3 linked regions of the Homo sapiens genome follow. The protein of the gene in region 2 interacts with the protein of the main gene of each other region in a pairwise test. Each region holds a gene or a part of one and is shown on either strand. Other genes may lie near its edges. The genes, in order: LATS2, GRM1 and TERT.

Region 1 (3,648 bases), on a different chromosome or scaffold from region 2:
TAAAAACAGACACATAGACCAATGGAACAGAATAGAGAACCCAGAAATAAGTCCACGTATTTACAGCCACCTGATTTTTGACAACGGTGCCAAGAATGTACACTGAAAAAGAGACATGCTGGGAAAACTAGATATCCATATGCAGAAGAATGAAACTAGACCCCAATCTCTCACCATATAGGAATGTCAACTTAAAACAGATTAAAGACCTAGAAATAAGACCAGAGGCTATGAAAATATACTCCAGGACATTGGTTTGAGCAAAGATTTTTATGGCTAAAATCTCAAAAGCACAGGCAAAAAAACCCCAAAGTAGACAAATGGGACTATATTAAGCTAAAAAGCTTCTGCAGAGCAAAGGAAACAACAGAGTAAAGAGGATACCTGTGTTGAACAGGAGAAAATATTCACAAACTATTCATCTGACAAAAGACTATTATTCAGAATATACAAGGAACTCAACTCAACAGCAAAAAAAATATCAAATAATCCCATTAAAAAGTAAGCCAAAAGGCCAGATATGGTGGCTCACGCCTGTAATCCCAGCACTTTGGGAGGCTGAGGCAGGCGGATTACTTGAGGTCAGGAGTTTGAGACCAGCCTGACTAACATGGTGAAACCCCGTCTCTACTAAACATACAAAAATTAGCTGAGCATGGTGTCGCACACCTGTAGTCCCAGCTCTCAGGAGGCTGAGGCAGGAGAATAGCTTGAATCCAGAAGGCAGAGGTTGCAGTGAGCCGAGATTTCACCACTGCACTCCAGCCTGGGCAATAGAGCAAGACTCCGTCTTAATTAAAAAATAAATAAATAAAATAAGGCCAGGCGCGGTGGCTCACACCTGTAATCCCAGCACCCTGGGAGGCTGAGACAGGTGGATCATCTGAGGTCGGAAGTTTGAGACCAGCCTGAACAACATGGTGAAACCCTGTCTCTACAAAAACATAAAACTAGCTGGGCGTGGTGGTGCATGCCTGTAATCCCAGCTGCTCGGTAGGCTGAGGCAGGAGAATCACTTGAACCCGGGAGGCGGAGGTTGTGGTGAGCTGAGATCGTGCCATTGCACTCCAGCCTGGGCAACAAGAGCGAAACTCTGTCTCAAAAAGAAAAAAAAGTGAGCTAATGACCTGAATAGACACTTGTCAAAAGAAGATACACAAATGGCTAAGAGGTGCATGGAAAGATGCTCATTAACCATCAGGGAAATGCAAATGAAAACCACAATGAGATATAATCTCTCCCCAGTTAGAACGACTATTATCAAAAAGGAAAAAAAAGAAACTAAAAATAGAACTACCATACAATCTACCAAACCCATTATTGGGTATTTATCTAAAGGAAAGGAAATCAGTATATCAAAGGGATACCTGCACCCCATGTTTATTGCAGCACTATTCACAACAGTAAAAACATGGAATCAACTGAAGTGTCCATCAACTGATGAACAGATAAAGAAAATGTGGTCTGTGTACACCATGGGATACTATTCAGCCATAAAAAAGAATGAAATCCTGTCATTTGGAGCAACATGAATGGAACTGGAGGTCATTATGTTAAGTGAAATAAGCCAGGAACAGAAGTTCGGTTAGAACACCACACACTGTTACTGATATGTGGGAGCTAAAATAATTGATCTCATAGAGGTAGAGAGTAGAATGATAGTTACCAGAGGTGGGAAAGGGTGTGTGTGTGTTGAGGGGAGATGAGAAGTTAATTGGTGCAAACATACAGCTGGATAGAAGGAACAAACTCTAACTAGTATGACTATGGTTAGTAAAAATGTATTCAATATTTCAAAATAGCTAGAAGAGAGGTCTTGAAATGCTTCCAACACAGAAATGATAAATACACCAGGCAATGGATACTCTAAATACCTTGACTTGATCATTACATATCCTATGCATGTAACAAAATATCACATGTTCCCCACAAATCTACAAATACTATGTATAAATAAAAAATAAACGGCTGGGTGTGGTGGCTCACACGTGTAATTCCAGCACTTGGGGAGGCCGAGGTGGGCAGATCACCTGAGGTCAAGAGTTCGAGACCAGTCTGACCAACATGGCGAAACCCCCGTCTCTACTAAAAACACAAAAAAATGGCCAGGCGTGGTGGTAGGCACCTGTAACCCCAACTACTCGGGAAGCTGAGGCAGGAGAATCGCTTGAACCCAGGAGGCAGAGGTTGCAGCGAGCCAAGATCGCGCCATTGCGCTCCAGCCTGGGTGACAGAGCAAGACTCCGTCTAAAAATAAATTAAAAAATAAAAAATAAAAATAAAAAAAACACAAATGAAAAGTATATCTGTAAAAAAATCAGTGAATACGGGACACTGAAAAGAACACAAATCTGGTTTTCAGGCTTTGGAATTATTGGCTTTGTGTGATTTAAATCTGTTACATTTTAATTTAAATAGTTTCATCAATAATTACCTTCTTCAGCACTTCAGTGTCAACTAAGGTATATTTAAATCATTAGTTACTAACTAAACACTTAAAAGAATAAATGGAATCACTACTAGATACATTTTTCTTCCAAAATCCCACAATCTCAATTTACAAAACCTTAAACTTTGTTTCTACTCATTCAAATGTTCTATTATTAATCCATGATGAATTTTGTTAAGCGAGGACATACCCTAAAACTTAATTTGCTAATTTACCTACAATGTAAATTGTAGATTACCTACATTACGCTGGCTACATTATGCACAGCTATCTCTGATTCTTCAGAAGAGTCAAGGGGAAAGGCGAAAGGGAGGTCACACCATTTGCAACTTCTCCAAGTTGTTGGCCCCAGAACCAGACTGTCGCCCATTAGCCGTTTTGATGATAAGGGGTATACAGTCGAAACAGAAAAGGGATTGTGCGTGCTTCCTATTGCCAGTAGAGGGATGAGCCGGGAACAAATAGTAAAAATGAAGTGTGAAATTACTTTGGCCATTTCTTGCTCCAGCTGCAGCCTCCGGTTAACCTTCTGCTGGTAGGTTTTGATGACATTCTCCACGTGCTGCTCCATGAAGAACTTAAAGGCGTATGGCGAGTAGCTCTTGATGCGTGACTCTCTCTTCTCTTCGTCTCTGCTGTTTTTGCGGACGGGAACGGGAGAGGTCTGAATCTGCTTTTTATCCTTTCCGCCTTTGTCCCCCTTGGCGCTTTTGCGGCTCTTGTCGCCGCCCTCGGGCTCGTTGGGGCCCGCACGGAGGCTCTGCTCCATGCCTGCGCACAGGCTGTCCAGGTCGTACTGCTCCGACTTGCTGCGCAGCAGCAGGTGCTTCGGGTAGGGCGGAGGCGGGCACCTCCGGTCTGGGCCTCCGTACTCCACGTCCAGCGGGAAGGCGCCTGCGCCGCCCAGCGCCAGGGCATGCTCCTCCTTGGCGTCCAAGCCCTCCGCAGCCGGGGCGGGGGCGGGGGCGGGGGCCGGGGCAGGCGCGGGCACCCAGGCGGGGTGCGAGGGCCCCACAGCCGTCTGCGGCTCCGGCCTCAGCACACGCACGCTCTTCACCGGGTGCAAGATGTGCGCGGCCGTGACAGCCGTCACGGTGTTGGGGGCGGGCAGGGAGGGCTCGGCCTTGCCAGGCGGACCGGGCCGCGGCTGGTGGCTGTTGAAGGAGTTGGTCCTGCTGGGCACTGGGCAGTCAGGCCGG
Region 2 (3,648 bases):
GCAGGTCCTCCTCCTCCTCTTCCAGTTCGTCTTCTTCCGTGTTCCCTTCCCGCTCGTGCTCATACACGTACTCCTGGAGGAGCTTAAACCTCTCGCTGTCGTCGTCGTCGTCCGCGGGCGGGGAGACCAGCTCCTCCCCAAAGGTGCTCAGCTGCAGCGGCAGCATCTGCAGGTGCTGCGGAGGTGGCGGGGGCGGGTACAGGGACCGCAGCCCGTTCCCGGGACCACCGGGGCCTGCCAGCACCGCGTGAAAATCCGGGATCGCGGTACTGAAGTTGCTGACCACTCCCTGGAGCTGGTCCATCAGCGATTTCTGCTGTGGAGGGGGTTGCTGCTGCTGCTGGAGAGGAGGGGGCAAGCCCTTGGGGAGGGCTGGTTCGGCCAGGAAGAGGGGGGTCTCCTCTGCGGTCAGGTGGGACGGCAGAGGCGGAGTGGTCGCCGCGCTTGGCACGCGCCTGTGCACCACCATGGAAGGGCTACCAGGCGGGCTAAAGCGAATCGGCTGGGCATCCTCCTCCTCCTCTACGTTGTAAAGGGTCTTGGTGCTGGTATCTGAAAAGGTCAGGCTCTTGCCAGAGCCTTGGTAACTTTTAGTGAGGGGCTTGATGACGGCTGTTTGGTTGCAGGCCGTCTCATTGGTCTTCACGTGCACAGAGAGGCGGTGCCACATATGCTGTCCCTTGGGCACCTGTCCTCCACCTGGTTCAGACCATGACACAGACTTGCCATTAGAACTATGAATAAAATAGAGATGGATTTATTTGCAGATAGATCATGCACACAGGATAAAATACATAGAAAACATATGCAAACCTAGCTCAGTGTGATTTAACTGCTGTCTCTGCTGTAGGCCTTTGCTCCAGCACCCCATACCTCCTCTTACAAAAAGAACACCAAAAGCTGAAGGAAATATTGACCCTGAGAAAAGTTGTTGAGGAGAAAAGCCAGTCTGTTGTAGAAATAGCTATTTTCATTTAGGTCTAAGATTTCACAAACCTCTCTTTTTTCTCCGTTGCACTCTCTCCCTCTCCCTCTGTCTCTCTCTGACACACACACACACACACACACACACACACACACTTTTGAAAAACTCCCAACTGATGGAGGAAAACTTTAAAAAAAAAATCTTAGTTACACATGGACAACCAAAATAATGGCTATTGTCCTTGGGACAAATTAGGACCCACATACAAAGCTACTCTCGTTGTGTTGTGGGATTATAAAATAGATCCTCTCAGTTGCCCATTCTCATATGCAAGTATTTCCCATGACCAGGGTGGCGTGATCACACAGGGTACCTATAAGGAACATAAAAAAGCAGATGACAGAAAAACTCAGACTCATGGTCAATTTATGAGCTTCATAGCTTTTGATTTTTTTAAAACATTTCAATGCATTATTTCTCACACATACAGTGGATCACAATTCACACAAAGGCCCTGACTCACAGAAGCTGGTTTGGGATTTTCACTCTAGGAACATTGAAATAGCTGTATTTGAAAAGCAATAGAATGAGGAAGCCAGGAAAAATACAAATGCCCACATCCTGCTTTAGGATAGTTTGATGCAAATAAGAGAAAATTATGATTGAGACAAAGCAGCAGTTACTGAGACGAAAACCTCTACTCATTGAGCCTTGGTGAAGAAGAGTCTTAGGGTGCCAGGAGCATCCCAGCCTTATCAACTCCCATCTTCATGGCACCCACAGAAAAGCAGCCATATGGAATTTCTCCCTGAATAAGAAAATAAGAAGATGTACTGTGGCCTACACCCCAAATTCTGTTCTGTCTATTGTAATAACTCTGATCTCACTTCTGGACTCAGCTTCTTTTCTGTATAACTTTAAGCAGATGTTGGTACCTTACCATAGCCTTCTACTAATAACAACGGTGGAATCCTTAAATCAGGAAATAATTGTTTCTTTTCTTTTTTTAGAAGTTTGCTTTTTCTCTGTACTCAGTAAAATGACAGAGAAAGTAGCATAATAGTAACACATTTATGACATTAAAAGGAATATAAAAATGGACATTTTTTTCTTTAAGTGGAGGTGTGAAATAGACTAATCCATATTCTAGTTTTTGTTTGGAAAAAATGTAGGAAATGATCAGTAGTTTAAATAATGGTTTATTTCATCATCTTGAGAATACAAGAACGAATACTTCAAAAATTATATGTGAGCATCATTTATGATGAAGGTAATATTTTGACATTTCATATTTTATAATCTTGAAAAGTAAAGTGAGCCAGATAAGTACAGATGAGTGTAAATGTCTGATATTGATTATAGAAAATTCTGGATATAAAGGCTCTAAAATAGATAAAACAGTTAAAGTTTTGACCTGATTATTTGAGAAATAGGTAGTTCCTCCATATATCTGATACCCTACACTGCATTTTTAATTGTCTAAGACAAAGCTCATCTCTGTTATGTCAAAGTTAATATTTCTTTCAAATATATGCCTTACACATTATCTGAGACTGTGGAAGTGCTTGTAAAGTTTTTAAAAATTGTCTTATTGACTTCCACACTATCTTGTTGGAATAGCTGACTCTTTTCTGAGGTAAACAAACTAAAGAACAGGTCAGTGGTGTCCCTGGCAAGAACAGGTAGTCAACCAGCTAGCCAGAATCACCACCAGAATCCACAGTTGCTCTTCTGAGCTTAAAACTGTAGGTAAACTCATCTTCCACTTAATCTTTTTCAACTGCCCCATCATCTACCACTATACACACTTTGTTTTTTTTATGCATTCAATATGCCTCTTCTAGAAAGGCAAATATAAAACTTATTTGCCTCTTACCCTCCTTAAGTATGCCTTACTATATATAGCATCCAACTCAATAATTTGCATCATTTTAAATTGCAATGAAAAAAATGTTTCCTTCCCCATCTTCCCACTTCTTCATAGGCATTAGGAAATGCCTTTTTAATGTTCACCAGGAAAATGCTTAAACAAAATGTTATCCTGTATCTATTTAGTTGTGTGTGTGTGTGTGTTAAAACAACAACAACAACAACAACAAACAGGTCCCTTGAGAAATAATCTGCCTCTAATTCAACCAGCAGGCTTAGCTGTTCCAATGACACATTGCCTTAGTTTCTACACATAATAGCAAAAAGGTACCTTGTTTCCTGAAAGCCCTAATGTGATCCACTTCACCCACTCATTCACATGGGCTGTTTTCCTCATTGTCCACAGGTTCTATGTGGGCCTCTTTTTAAATCAAAAGCACCCATAAGTTAACAGTATTATTAATCATGTTGCAGACAGATATAATCAGAATTTAGTTCTGTTTTAATTAAATCCAATTTTTATTGTTGAGATGGGACATTTTCACTATGGCCTTCAAAACTGGTAACTTTCGTTCCCCTCAGTCTTGCTCTAGATTTGCTGTAAAGTACTTTTAATTAGGAAACAGATCTCACACCTCAGGGCATTTATCAGATTAAGAAAATTAGTGTAATCTTTTTTCAAGGATAAAATAAACTGCTTTTTAAAAATCAAACATAGTAGAAGGAATGTATCATCTCACAGACATTGCAGCACTGAGTACAAACTTTAGTTCTTCAAGATGAGTCATTTCTTACCTGTGGTCCATAGATAATCTGAAAGGTCCATGCATCTATACCTGCATTAAGCATTGTTT
Region 3 (3,648 bases), on a different chromosome or scaffold from region 2:
TTTTCTGTGTACAGTGCAGAATTGCTAACTCGGCGGTGTTTACAGCAGGTTGCTTGAAATGCTGCGTCTTGCGTGACTGGAAGTCCCTACCCATCGAACGGCAGCTGCCTCACACCTGCTGCGGCTCAGGTGGACCACGCCGAGTCAGATAAGCGTCATGCAACCCAGTTTTGCTTTTTGTGCTCCAGCTTCCTTCGTTGAGGAGAGTTTGAGTTCTCTGATCAGGACTCTGCCTGTCATTGCTGTTCTCTGACTTCAGATGAGGTCACAATCTGCCCCTGGCTTATGCAGGGAGTGAGGCGTGGTCCCCGGGTGTCCCTGTCACGTGCAGGGTGAGTGAGGCGTTGCCCCCAGGTGTCCCTGTCACGTGTAGGGTGAGTGAGGCGCGGCCCCCGGGTGTCCCTGTCCCGTGCAGCGTGATTGAGGTGTGGCCCCCGGGTGTCCCTGTCCCGTGCAGGGTGAGTGAGGCACTGTCCCCGGGTGTCCCTGTCACGTGCAGGGTGAGTGAGGCGCGGTCCCCGGGTGTCCCTGTCACGTGTAGGGTGAGTGAGGCACTGTCCCCGGGTGTCCCTCTCAGGTGTAGGGTGAGTGAGGCGCCGTCCCCGGGTGTCCCTGTCACGTGTAGGGTGAGTGAGGCGTGGTCCCCGGGTGTCCCTGTCCCGTGCAGGGTGAGTGAGGCGCTGTCCCCGGGTGTCCCTGTCACGTGCAGGGTGAGTGAGGCGCGGTCCCCGGGTGTCCCTGTCACGTGTAGGGTGAGTGAGGCACCGTCCCTGGGTGTCCCTCCCAGGTGTAGGGTGAGTGAGGCGCTGTCCCCGGGTGTCCCTCTCAGGTGTAGGGTGAGTGAGGCGCGGCCCCAGGTGTCCCTGTCACGTGTAGGGTGAGTGAGGCACCGTCCCTGGGTGTCCCTCCCAGGTATAGGGTGAGTGAGGCACTGTCCCCGGGTGTCCCTGTCACGTGCAGGGTGAGTGAGGCGCGGTCCCCAGGTGTCCCTGTCACGTGTAGGGTGAGTGAGGCACTGTCCCCGGGTGTCCCTGTCCCGTGCAGGGTGAGTGAGGCGCGGTCCCCAGGTGTCCCTGTCCCGTGCAGGGTGAGTGAGGCGCCGTCCCCGGGTGTCCCTGTCACGTGCAGGGTGAGTGAGGCACGGCCCCCGGGTGTCCCTGTCACGTGCAGGGTGAGTGAGGCGCGGCCCCCGGGTGTCCCTGTCACGTGCAGGGTGAGTGAGGCGCGGCCCCCGGGTGTCCCTGTCACGTGCAGGGTGAGTGAGGCGCGGTCCCCGGGTGTCCCTGTCACGTGCAGGGTGAGTGAGGCGCGGTCCCCGGGTGTCCCTGTCACGTGCAGGGTGAGTGAGGCGCGGTCCCCGGGTGTCCCTGTCACGTGCAGGGTGAGTGAGGCACGGTCCCCGGGTGTCCCTGTCCCGTGTAGGGTGAGTGAGGCACTGTCCCCGGGTGTCCCTGTCACGTTCAGGGTGAGTGAGGCGCGGTCCCCGGGTGTCCCTGTCACGTGTAGGGTGAGTGAGGCACCGTCCCCGGGTGTCCCTGTCACGTGCAGGGTGAGTGAGGCGCTGTCCCCGGGTGTCCCTGTCACGTGCAGGGTGATTGACGCGAGGCCCCCGGGTGTCCCTGTCACGTGCAGGGTGAGTGAGGCGCCGTCCCCGCGTGTCCCTGTCACGTGCAGGGTGAGTGAGGCGCCGTCCCCGGGTGTCCCTGTCACGTGTAGGGTGAGTGAGGTGCCGTCCCCGGGTGTCCCTGTCACGTGTAGGGTGAGTGAGGCGCCGTCCCCGGGTGTCCCTGTCACGTTCAGGGTGAGTGAGGCACGGCCCCCGGGTGTCCCTGTCACGTGTAGGGTGAGTGAGGCGCGGTCCCCGGGTGTCACTGTCACGTGTAGGGTGAGTGAGGCACTGTCCCCGGGTGTCCCTGTCACGTGTAGGGTGAGTGAGGCGCGGCCCCCGGGTGTCCCTGTCACGTGCAGGGTGAGTGAGGCGCGGCCCCCGGGTGTCCCTGTCACGTGTAGGGTGAGTGAGGCGCGGCCCCCGGGTGTCCCTGTCACGTGCAGGGTGAGTGAGGCGCGGCCCCCGGGTGTCCCTGTCACGTGCAGGGTGAGTGAGGCGCGGCCCCCGGGTGTCCCTGTCACGTGCAGGGTGAGTGAGGCACGGCCCCCGGGTGTCCCTGTCACGTGCAGGGTGAGTGAGGCGCGGCCCCCGGGTGTCCCTGTCACTTGCAGGGTGAGTGAGGCACTGTCCCCGGGTGTCCCTGTCACGTTCAGGGTGAGTGAGGCGCGGTCCCCGGGTGTCCCTGTCACGTGTAGGGTGAATGAGGCACTGTCCCCGGGTGTCCCTGTCACGTGCAGGGTGAGTGAGGCGCCGTCCCCGGGTGTCCCTGTCACGTGCAGGGTGATTGACGCGAGGCCCCCGGGTGTCCCTGTCACGTGCAGGGTGAGTGAGGCGCCGTCCCCGCGTGTCCCTGTCACGTGCAGGGTGAGTGAGGCGCCGTCCCCGGGTGTCCCTGTCACGTGTAGGGTGAGTGAGGCGCCGTCCCCGGGTGTCCCTGTCACGTGTAGGGTGAGTGAGGCGCCGTCCCCGGGTGTCCCTGTCACGTGTAGGGTGAGTGAGGCGCCGTCCCCGGGTGTCCCTGTCACGTGTAGGGTGAGTGAGGCGCCGTCCCCGGGTGTCCCTGTCACGTGCAGGGTGAGTGAGGCCCCGTCCCCGGGTGTCCCTGTCACGTGTAGGGTGAGTGAGGCACTGTCCCCGGGTGTCTCTGTCACGTGTAGGGTGAGTGAGGCGCCGTCCCTGGGTGTCCCTCTCAGGTGTAGGGTGAGTGAGGCGCCATCCCCGGGTGTCCCTGTCACGTGTAGGGTGAGTGAGGCGCCGTCCCCGGGTGTCCCTGTCACGTGTAGGGTGAGTGAGTTGCGGCCCCCGGGTGTCCCTCTCAGGTGCAGGGTGAGTGAGGCGCTGTCCCTGGGTGTCCCTGTCTCGTGTAGGGTGAGTGAGGCTCTGTCCCCAGGTGTCCTTGGCGTTTGCTCACTTGAGCTTGCTCCTGAATGTTTGCTCTTTCTATAGCCACAGCTGCGCCGGTTGCCCATTGCCTGGGTAGATGGTGCAGGCGCAGTGCTGGTCCCCAAGCCTATCTTTTCTGATGCTCGGCTCTTCTTGGTCACCTCTCCGTTCCATTTTGCTACGGGGACACGGGACTGCAGGCTCTCGCCTCCCGCGTGCCAGGCACTGCAGCCACAGCTTCAGGTCCGCTTGCCTCTGTTGGGCCTGGCTTGCTCACCACGTGCCCGCCACATGCATGCTGCCAATACTCCTCTCCCAGCTTGTCTCATGCCGAGGCTGGACTCTGGGCTGCCTGTGTCTGCTGCCACGTGTTGCTGGAGACATCCCAGAAAGGGTTCTCTGTGCCCTGAAGGAAAGCAAGTCACCCCAGCCCCCTCACTTGTCCTGTTTTCTCCCAAGCTGCCCCTCTGCTTGGCCCCCTTGGGTGGGTGGCAACGCTTGTCACCTTATTCTGGGCACCTGCCGCTCATTGCTTAGGCTGGGCTCTGCCTCCAGTCGCCCCCTCACATGGATTGACGTCCAGCCACAGGTTGGAGTGTCTCTGTCTGTCTCCTGCTCTGAGACCCACGTGGAGGGCCGGTGTCTCCGCCAGCCTT

The links.
Region 1: the proteins of GRM1 (region 2) and LATS2 come close enough for resonance energy transfer, tested with the Homo sapiens proteins (one large-scale study listed by BioGRID).
Region 3: the proteins of GRM1 (region 2) and TERT come close enough for resonance energy transfer, tested with the Homo sapiens proteins (one large-scale study listed by BioGRID).

The regions. Positions count from the first base shown.
Region 1 is NC_000013.11:20,984,945-20,988,592, forward strand, and holds part of LATS2 (serine/threonine-protein kinase LATS2), read right to left. Parts: coding exon 2,937-3,648; intron 1-2,936. UniProt on the Homo sapiens protein: Negative regulator of YAP1 in the Hippo signaling pathway that plays a pivotal role in organ size control and tumor suppression by restricting proliferation and promoting apoptosis.
Region 2 is NC_000006.12:146,430,958-146,434,605, reverse strand, and holds part of GRM1 (metabotropic glutamate receptor 1 isoform alpha precursor), read right to left. Parts: intron 735-3,648; coding exon 1-734. UniProt on the Homo sapiens protein: G-protein coupled receptor for glutamate. Ligand binding causes a conformation change that triggers signaling via guanine nucleotide-binding proteins (G proteins) and modulates the activity of down-stream effectors.
Region 3 is NC_000005.10:1,288,427-1,292,074, reverse strand, and holds part of TERT (telomerase reverse transcriptase), read left to right. Parts: intron 1-3,648. UniProt on the Homo sapiens protein: Telomerase is a ribonucleoprotein enzyme essential for the replication of chromosome termini in most eukaryotes. Active in progenitor and cancer cells. Inactive, or very low activity, in normal somatic cells.